Linked DNA regions of Homo sapiens: region 2 is linked to region 1. Evidence: fine-mapped expression QTL. A gene starts in region 1. The other region holds a variant in brackets. All regions are shown on one strand. Distances are between the middles of the regions.

The links. PIP is the estimated chance that this variant, and not a neighbour inherited with it, causes the effect.
Region 2: its variant is the best candidate, but not a certain one, in a credible set for the expression of PIF1 in blood mononuclear cells (TOPMed, PIP 0.84).

What each region holds. Positions count from the first base shown.
Region 1 is chr15:64,823,588-64,828,960 of GRCh38, reverse strand. PIF1 (PIF1 5'-to-3' DNA helicase) reads left to right here and starts at 3,314. Exons shown (of 13, transcript NM_001286496.2): 1 at 3,314-3,392; 2 at 4,607-5,183. The coding sequence starts at 4,626. RefSeq lists enhancers at 3,052-3,181, 4,371-5,038 and a silencer at 4,740-5,229.
Region 2 is chr15:64,903,181-64,908,553 of GRCh38, reverse strand. No RefSeq gene overlaps it. Among named protein-coding and RNA genes, the nearest start is that of ANKDD1A, 6.0 kb to the left of the region's middle. The variant C/A (reference allele first, on the strand shown) is at 2,635.

The DNA of each region.
Region 1 (5,373 bases):
GGAGGCTGAGATGGGAGGATCACTTGAGCAGGAAGGTCAAGGCGGCAGTGAGTTATGATTGTGCCACTGTACTCCAGCCTGGGTGGCAGAGTGACAACCTGTCTCAAAAAAAAAAAAAAGATTTCTAACAGGTTTATGGAGATATAATTCACATACCATACAATTTAAGCATTCAAAGCATTCGATTCAATGGTTTTCAGTATAGTCACGGGGTTGTGCAACTATCACCAATCAATTTTAGACTATTTTTATCTTTCTCCCATTTTGAGAAAACAGAGGCTTGAGACATTATGGAAACCTGCTTAGGGTAGCATCCACTGGAAAGGCATTGCAGTGGCTGTTACTAGCTGAGATTCCAGTCCAGGTTATACCTTTCATGAAGCTAGGCCAGTCACCTTGAGGCAGAAGAACAGGGTCTGGAGGCAGGGAACCTAAGGCTGTTTCACGCCGACTTCCTAGAATTAAATTAAAAGGAAAACCCGGCTGGGCACAGTGGCTCACACCTGTAATCCCATCACTTTGGGAGGCCGAGGCGGGCAGATCACAATGTCAAGAGATTGAGACCATCCAGGCCAACATGGTGAAACCCCGTCTCTACTAAATATACAAAAATTAGCTGGGCATGGTGGCATGCACCTGTAGTCCTAGCTACTTGGGAGGCTAAGGCAGGAGAATCGCTTGAATGGGGGAGGCAGAGGTTGCAGTGAGCCAAGATAGCGCCTCTGCACTCCAGCCTGGCAACAAATAGAGACTCCACCTCAAAAAAATAAGAAGAAGAAGAAGAAGAAAAAAGAAAACCCTGGCCGGGCATGGTGGCTCACGCCTGTAATCTCAGCACTTTGGGAGGCCGAGGTAGGCGGATCACGAAGTCAGGAGTTCGAGACCAGCCTGGCCAATATGGTGAAACCCCATCTCTACCAAATATACAAAAATTAAATGGGCATGGTGGCACGCACCTGTAGTCCCAGCTACTTGGGAAGCTGAGGCAGAAGAATCGCTTGAACCCAGGAGGCAGAAGTTGCAGTGAGCCGAGATCCTGCCACTGCACTCCGGCCTGGGCAACAGAGCACAGAGCCAGACGCTGTCTCCCAAAAAAAAAAAAAAAAAAAAAAAAAAAAAAGGAAAACTCTAACTTTCCACTCCTAAGTAAGGACAAGAACAAAAGGACCAAAGGCTACTCCCTTTGACGTTTCCCGCATGGCAGATGGGAGATTGGCAGATGGGAGATTGGCTGTCTGCAACAAATCATAGGAGTGTGGGTCCAGTCTTCGTTTGCAACTTTGTAACTTCACTCCAGCCTCTGAATGGTGGCTGAATGGTTGCTGTCTGCAACCAATCAGACTGATTATCGCTACCACTTCAGTTACATGAAGTAAGCGTAAAGTTCCCAATGGGAAACTTCTAGGGGGTATTTGAACCCAAGAAAATTCTGTATCTCGGGTCCCCTCCCACACTGTGGAGTGTACTTTCGTTTTTGTTTTTTGTTGTTGTTGTTTGTTTTGAGACAAGTTCTCGTTCTGTCGCTCAGGCTGGAGTGCAGCGGCACGATCCAGGCTCACTGTATCTTCTGCCTCCTGGATTCAAGTGATTCTCATGCCTCAGCCTCCCAAGCAGCTGGGATTACAGATGTCCACGACGACACCCGGCAATTTTTGTATTTTTAGTAGAGACAGGGTTTCACCATGTTGGTCAGGGTGGTCTGGAACTGCTGACCTCAAGTGATCCCCCCACCTCGGCCTCCCAAAGTGCTGGGATTACAGGCGTGAGCCACCGCGCCTAGCCGTACTTTCGTTTTCAAAAAATTCCTGCTTTTGTTCTTTTGTTGCTTCATTCTTTCTTTGCTTTGATGGGCATTTTGTCCAATTCTTTGTTCAAAACGCCAAGAACCTGGACAACTTTCAGTCATCACCCTCTACCGCTAACAGACTGGGAGCAGTGTGGTGTAGTAGCTAAGCCCCATGGAGTGATTAAGCGAGCAGGTAATCTGGGTTCAATGTTTGGTTTTGCTCTCCATATCAGCTATGTGACCTTCAGTAAAATCTCTGGAAGCCTTGCTTTTTTCTCATTTGAAAAATAAGGTCCGGGCTCATGCCTGTAATCCTAGGACTTCGGGAGGCCACGGTGGGTGGATCGTTTGACCTCCGGAGTTCGAGACAAGCCTGGGAAACATGGTGACATCCCGTCTATACGAAAAAAAAATTATATATATATATGTGTGTGTATATATATATATGTGTGTGTATATATATATGTGTGTGTATATATATGTGTGTGTATATATGTGTGTGTGTGTGTATATATATATATATATATATATATATATATATATATATATAAATTAGCTGGGTGTGCATCTGTAGTTCCAGCTACCTGGGGGGCTGAGGCGGGAGGATCACCAGAGCCCAGGAGGCGGAGGTTGCAGTGAGCCACGATCGCGCCACGGCAGAGGTTGCAGTGAGCAGAGATTGTGCCACTGCACTCCACTACAGCCTGGGCGACAGAGTGAGCCCTAAGAAGGAAAAAGGAAAGGAAAGGGCAATTTAATCCATGGTAGTTATCATTATCTGTAAAATGAGGTAGCCAGACTCACCTGTAAGATCCTTTCCAGCTATGTAATTCCAAGCTTCAATGAGATAATAAAGATGATTAAAAGTAAATTCTTTCAGCATCCTGTGCAAGAAGAGGGATACAATTTCCCTGAAGACAGAGACTCTACTCGCTTCCGCTGTACCCTCTGGCACGTGGCACAGGTCTCAGAGTTTCTCACTCATGGGCCTCAGGTGGGTGAGAGAGCCAAAGCGTAAAGTCCCTTACAAAGGCAGAGAAGGATGTAGAGTTGGGGGCGGGGGAGGGATTGGGCAGGCCTTGGGGTGGTCTGCCCAGAACTGGACAATGGTACTGTGAGTGTAAACAGGGGTGTGAGAGTCCAAAGGCAGATCTTCCCCAAGGCTAAGCCCAGCCTCTGTGTGCGGGCTAGAGGGGAGAGGGAGTGTGCTGGAAGGATGGTTCTGAAAATAAATCTTCGGAGTCGCGTAGGGTTTTCAGACCCGACACCACGCGCCGCCGGGTGGCTGCCGCAGCGGCGGCCTCCTCCCACCACGCCCAGCCGTCCACTGGATTTGGTATGCTCAGCCACCACCATAAACCTCCTTCCTCTAGCAGGCAATTGGTACAGCCCAAGCTCCTGGAGTAGAGACGCAAAGAAAGACACGCCCATTGTTACGCCCCTACCTCTGAGTGGCTGGAGAATTTAAAGATCCAGTCGGTGATTGGGTGATTTTCTGCCTCTAGCATTTGAAAAATTTCTAGTTTCGGAGCTTAGCCACAGGCCGGCTACGATCTGCTTGTTCATCTGAGTGTCGGCACAAGTGAGTGTCTGCCCGAACCCAGAGGTGGGGAGCAAAGAGCCTGATTTATCTAGGGGTTTCCGGCGGGAGGGTGCAAACAAATGGGTCAGCCTGAGGGAGCACGGCTTCTAGGGTCCCAGGGTCCCCCGCGATTTCCCTAGCCGAATATTTTCCACCTCGTCCCCACCTTGGTGGTGGGAAGCGCGAGGGCATGGGAATCACACTGACTTTGACTACTAGCCGCTGTGGCTTATGAAGGGCAAGTGAGTTTCCCTCTCTTAGCCTGTTTCCACGTCTGTACACGGGGAAGAGTGAGACCTGCCCGCTGCATATAAGCCAGTGAATGTACCTACAAGGCAGAAGTCGCTTATTACACGGCAGCCCTCTTTGCATCTCCCCACGGGCGATTCTCCTGCTTCCTGGGGAGAGTACTCTGAGGATTCATGTGCTCGCCCTGGGTCTCGGGGAAGGAGGATTCTTTCTGCGCAGGGACCCCTGTTCTAGTGAGGTCCTTGCAGGACACCTGAGGCTCCCTAATCCTCGGTGCCCATCCGCCGCTCTGGAAATTGTTGTGTAGCACGGTGTGTGTGTATATGTGTGTGTGTGTGTGTGTGTATATATATAGAAATTGTATATATATTGTGTGTATATATATATAGAAATTGGATATATAGAAATGGAAATTGTGTAGCAGGGTGCGTGTGTGTATATATATATATACATATATATACACACACACACACACATATATATAATGTATGCATATGTATGTATTTATATGTATGTATTTTTTTTTTAATTAGAGGGTGTCGCTATGTTGCCCAGGATGGTCTCGAGTTCCTGGGCTCAAGCGATCTTCCTTCTTCAGCCTCCCAAAGTGCTGGAATTACAAGCGCCCGCCACCACGCCCGGCTAATTTTTGTATTTTTAGTAGAGACGAGGTTTCACCATGTTGGCCAGGCTGGTCTCAGAACTCCTAACTTCAGGTGATCCGCCCACTTTAGCCTCCCAAAGTGCTGGGATTAAAGCGCGAGCCACTGCGCCCGGCCCAGGGCATATTCTAAGGGTGGATTTTCGGTTAGCCCAAAGCCCTTTCTCCGTCTTTGTGACCTCTTTGTGTTACCAGTGACAGTCCTCGTGATCTTGTGTAGCCTTGACCCTGCTCCCTGTCACGTCCTTTATAGCACCCATTACGTCCCCTATAGCACCCATTACGTCTCATGAATCCTCATGACCCCTGTGCTCCGGTGTCTTCGCAGACCAGCAGAGGCGGTGACGATGCTCTCGGGCATAGAGGCGGCGGCAGGGGAATATGAGGACTCGGAGCTGCGGTGCCGCGTGGCTGTGGAGGAGCTGAGCCCGGGCGGGCAGCCGCGAAGGCGCCAGGCCCTGCGCACCGCGGAGCTGAGCCTGGGTCGCAACGAGCGCCGCGAGTTGATGCTGCGGCTGCAAGCGCCAGGGCCCGCGGGGCGGCCGCGCTGCTTTCCTCTGCGCGCCGCGCGCCTCTTCACGCGTTTCGCCGAGGCCGGGCGCAGCACCCTGCGGCTCCCCGCCCACGACACCCCCGGGGCCGGCGCAGTGCAGCTGCTGCTCTCGGACTGCCCCCCAGACCGCCTGCGCCGCTTCCTGCGCACATTGCGCCTCAAGCTGGCTGCGGCCCCGGGTCCCGGGCCGGCCTCCGCCCGAGCGCAGCTGCTGGGCCCGCGGCCCCGCGACTTCGTCACCATCAGCCCTGTGCAGCCCGAGGAGCGGCGGCTCAGGGCGGCCACCCGGGTTCCGGACACTACGCTGGTGAAGCGGCCTGTGGAGCCCCAGGCTGGGGCCGAGCCTAGCACAGTGAGGACGGGAAAGAAGGGACACCTTTAGGAGTAGATGTGCCATTCTTTAAGATGGCAGAGACCTAGAGACCCAAGTTTGAGGGGAAGCCGGTGTGGGTATTTGATACCCATCTGACATCTCAGTATGACAGGGGTGTGGGAATTGTGCCTGTGGTTGTTATAGTGTAATCCCTGAGATGGAGTAAATC
Region 2 (5,373 bases), 80 kb before region 1:
AACATTCTTCTGGCTTTATTCTGGGAACAATCTACTACAGAGATCTCTCCGCAGTAGTCTGTTGAGATCTTCCTGCATCCTTTGTACAGCCTCAGAGTCCTCCATTGGGTGGCTTATTCAACCACTCCCTGTTGATGGACATTGGCCCTGTTTCCAGACTTTTGTTATTACAATAGAGTTACAATGACCAACCTTATGCATGCATCAGTTGGTATTTTTACCAGTGCATCTATGGGATCTATTCTTATAAATGGGATTGCTTGGTCAAAGGGTAAATGCACATATAACTTTGCTAGCTATTGCCAAATTCTCCTCCATAAGGTCCAGAAATATTTTGCATTTCCATTACCAATGTATGAGGGTGCCTGTTTCCAAGGAGAACATTCTGTAAAACTTGGATTTTTCCCAATCTGATAAGTAAGAAATAGTAATTCATTATAATCTTAGTTTGCATTTCTATCATTACAAGAAAAGTTGGTTATCTGTTTCTATGTTTAAGAGCCGTTTTCTTTTCTTTTTTTTCCTGAGAACAATCTGTTCTTATCCCACTCATTTTTTAAATGATTGTTGGCCTTTTGCTTAAGAGAAATTTTAAAACAGCTTTTTATTTCTTGTCTTATTAATGTTTGTTCATTACTAAAGAAATTTTAAAATACAAAGAAGGGGCTGGGAGCGGTGGCTCACGTCTGTAATCCCAGCACTTTGGGAGGCCGAGGTGGGAGGATCACGAGGTCAGGAGATCAAGACCATCCTGGCTAACATGGTGAAAACCCATCTCTACTAAAAAAATATATATATATAAAATTAGCCGGGCGTGGTGACGGGTGCCTGTAGTCCCAGCTACTCAGGAGGCTGAGGCAGGAGAATGGTGTGAACCCGGAAGGTGGAGCTTGCAGTGAGCTGAGATCAGGCCACTGCATTCCAGCCTGGGCGACAGAGTGAGACTCCGTCTCAAAAAAACAAAAAAAAAAAAAAAGAAGGGACAAAATACAATCAATCTACCAGAAGACGCCACCATGAATCACTTGTTATATATTGCGCTAGCCCTTTTCTAACAAAAGAAAAAAATACACACACACACACACACACACAAGAGTGGTAAATATTTGCTGGTCTTGTACCAGCATTTGGGAGCCAGAATGGCACTGGTTTCCTCTCTGCTTAGAGCAATCAGCTGCTTGAGAGGAGGGAGGGAGTGGCAGAAGCTCCCAGCCAAGTGGGGTCAGGGGTACCCAGTGGGCAGCTCCTGAACAGGTGCTCCAAATAAGTGAGCAGTTTGATTGTGGGTAGGAGTGGCAGCCCCCTGCAGAACTGCTCACCCAGTGGGGGAAGGAGCAGCAGGAGCACAGGACTAAGAGACCTGAGCTCCAATCCAGATCTGCACTGCCCAGCTGTGGAACTGGACAAGTCCTTTCCCTCTCTCCATAAGGAAATAGGCCTGGATGGTCTTTTAGGTCCCTGGCCCCTCAAGCATTGGATTGAGAGGTGATGAATAATCCATTAGAGGAAGAAAGCATTAACCAAAGGGAGGCAGGGCCAGTTTATTTTTCAGGTCCCTAGGTACCCTCTAAACCAGTGGTTTCCAATCTTTTTACCACCATGGACTGGTTTTCTGGAAGACAATTTTTCCATGGGTTGGGGTGGGGCCATTGGAATGGTTTCAGGATGAGACTGTTCCACCTCAGATCATCAGGCATTAGATTCTCATAAGGAGTGCAGCAACCTATCGCATGTGGGGACAATAGGGTTCATGTTCCTATGAGAATCTAATGCCTCTGCTGATCTGACAAGAGGCAGAGCTCAGACAGTAATGCCTGCTGCTCACCTCCTGCTGTGCAGCCCCATTGCTAACAGGCCACAAACCCATACTGGTCCTGCCCGGGGGTTGGGGACACCTGCTATAAACTCACAGACCTCAGACTCCACCCACATCTCCCAGCACTTGTGTATCCATGTCTTTCTGAGTCCAGTCCTAGCTCGGCTGTGTGACCCCATGCAATCACTAAATCTCTCTGACCTTCAATTTATCTGTGGATGATCCTTTTTTAATAGGGCTATTTCAAAATGCCTAGGCCCAGGCACACAATGAGTGCCCTAGTGTGGTGGCGGTGATTATCCTCCAGCTCTCCACCTGCAACCTATACTATCCCATGTAATCATATTGACAACTCTGTGAGGCAAATGCTAGAATATGGAAGCTCCACTGTACGGAGGAGGCACCTGAGATTCAGAGAGGTTAATACTTCACTCAGGGACATACAACAAGCTGTGGAGAGTTGAGAATGGCCTCCAGGTGTGACTCGCTCCAAAGGAGAAACAGGTGATTCCCATGGCATTGAACCACGTGCTGGGTCCCCAGCCAGGCCACAGCTGAAGGTGAGGTTGGAGGACATCCTTCAATCCAACCACCCGGCCAGTCCACTGGGACACCCCAATTCTAGGGCGTGACTTTCTTGCCAGGAAAGAAAGCAATTTGGCGGAAAGCCTCAGAAAACAGCGCAAACAGGCTGGGCGTGGTGGCTCACACCTGTAGTCCCAGCACTTTGGGAGGCTAAGGCAGGTGGCTAAGGCTTGAGCCCAGGAGTTCGAGACCGGCCTGGGCAAAATGGTGAGACCTACCCTTCCACCCCCCCA[C/A]ACACACGCTCACTGTCTCTACAAAAAAAATTTAAAGAAACAAAAGGAAAAATAGCGCAAGCACGTAACCTGACGCAGAGGATCCAGGTGAGAGGGACTAGGAGCGTATGGGCGTTCAGTTTCCCTGAGCCTGGCTTCTCGCGCTTAGCGTCCTCCTGGAACTCCGAGGGGAGTGGGCAGAGGCCTCTGGGCCTCGCTGCAGTTTCGGTTGTCGACACGCGGGGGAGCAAGAGCCGGCGAAGAGCAGCTGTAAATACCGTAATTCCCTCCCATCTGTCCCCACGACCGGCACGACAGTGATGGAGGCCAGAGGGGCGCGAGGAGGGAGAGGCTAGGGGTTACAGACTGTAGTGTAACCTGAGATGGGCTGGATCTACCTATGACAGAGGAGGCTCTGCGCAGAGAAGCAGGGTGCCCACATGCTGAGTCTCCCAACTGGCTCCTCCACGCTGGGCTTTCTGCTGTACCATTTTCTGAGGCTTTCCCCAAGATTGCCAGTGAGGGTACGTGAATGCCAGGCTAAAGACTTGGGCCATGGGGGCGGGGTGAGAGAGGAATAGACGCGGTGGTAAAGATGTAAGTAAATGTGGGGTTGAGTGGCAGTTTAATTCCCAGACATACTCGGGCCTTTCTAATGAGGGAAAAGATCCAATAACTTTCGCAAAGAAAGTAGGGAATTACTATGGATTCCCGTTAGAGGAATGCGCATCTTAAAAAGCTGCAGGAAGGGGGCAATATTTAACCCAAATGAAATTCTAAAGGTCTTTTTTTTTTTTTTTTTTTTTTTTTAGACGGAGTCTCACTCTGTCGCCCAGGCTGGAGTGCAGTGGCGCGATCTCGGCTCACTGCAAGCTCCGCCTCCCGGGTTCACGCCATTCCCTTGCCTCAAGCTCCCGAGTAGCTGGGACTACAGGCGCCCGCCACCATGCCCGGCTAATTTCTTTTTGTATTTTCAGTAGAGACGGAGTTTCACCATGTTAGCCAGGATGGTCTCGATCTCCTGACCTCGTGATCCGCCCGCCTCGGCCTCCAAAAGTGCTGGGATTACAGGCGTGAGCCACCGCGCCCGGCCTTCTTTTTTTTTTTTTTTTTTTTTTTTTTAACTTTTGTTTTAGGTTCAGGGCTATATGTGCAGGTTTGTTACATAGGTAAACTTGTGTCATGGGGGTTTGTTGTACAGATTATTTCATCACCCAGGTACTAAGCCAAGTACCTGGTAGTGATATTTCCTGATTCTCTCCCTCCTCCCATCCTCCACCCTCTAGTAGGCCCCAGTGTCTGTTGTTCCCTTCTTTGTGTCCATAAGTTATCATCATTTAGCTTCCACTTATAAGTGAGAACAGGCGGTATTTGGTTTTCTGTTCCCGTGATTTTTTTAGGTTAACAGGCAGAAGGGAGAGAGGTGTTTGCCTGGAGAAAGGATAAGATGACCTGGTGTTGTTGGGTTGAGGGGTGAGGCAGTTCTGTGATCTGGGTCCCAGAGCAGGGACAGGGTGCAGCCTGTTGTGAAAGCCCAATGCACCGGATGTGTGTCCTCTCTAAGAAGGTAGCACAGCCATGTGCAGTGTCATTGAGCATGCCCTCTGCCCAGGGCTCTGCCAGCCCAGCCAGTGAGGCTCAAGTTGGGGGACAGGAGGTTGGGGGTCAGGGAGAGATGCTTGGGAAGCGAGGAAAAGAGAAAAGGAAAAGGCACCTAAGAGCTGGCAGGCTGGAGTCAGGCAAGACCTTCATCTTCCAGACTTGTTTTCTCATCTGGAAGGTGGAGATAATAACACTACCTATATGCAAAGGGCTATTGTGAGAATTCAATCAGTTGTTGTTCTAGAAAGTGCTCTGTAACCACTACAAAGACTAGGCATGAAACCTCCTCTGTAGAGGGCTCCCAGATTGCTCCAAACTCAAAATGCCCCTTTCCTGAGGGTTCCCAGAACCCATGGTCAAGCCTTCCGTGGTATCCCTGGCCTAGATGCAAGTAACTGTTTTGCAGCTGTCACCTTCTGCTCCAGCTCCCACTAAAGCACCCTCCCAACCCCAATCCCTGCCATACTATGAACTTTTTTTAAATTTATTTATTTTTGAGACAAGGTCTCACTGTGTCACCCAGGCTGGAATGCAATACAGTGTCAAGATCATGGCTTATCACAGCCTTATCTCCAGGGCTCAAGCGATCCTCCCACCTCAGGCTCCCAGGTAGCTGGGACCACAGGCATGTGCCAACACGCATAGCTAATTTTTTTTTTTTTTTTTTTTTTTTTTTTTTTGCAGAAATGAGGTTTCCCTATGTTGCCCAGGCTGGTCTTGAACTCCTGGGCTCAAACAATCCTCTCACCTCAGCCTCCCAAAGTGTTGGGGTTACAGACGTGAGTCACAGCGCCTGGCCAACTGAACTTGTCAAGGCAGATGTGGTAGCTAATTCATCCCTGTACTCATTCAAAACTACAGCCTGATAAGACTTGGCAAAATGATACTAAAGTTTATCTTAAAACAACAACAACAATAAAAACAGACAGCAATGTTATGAAAACAAAGAGCAGTGGAGGGAAAGATGGGACCAGATACTGAAACAATTTGACAATGGCTATCAGAATTTTTTAAATGTACATACCTTTCATGCCAACAACTCCATTTCTAAGAATCTACACCATAGAAATAATTGCAGTAATTACATAAAGATGCAAGGATGTCTACTGCGATCTGTTCCGTAACTATAGCAAACAATTGGAAACAACCCAAGGGCCC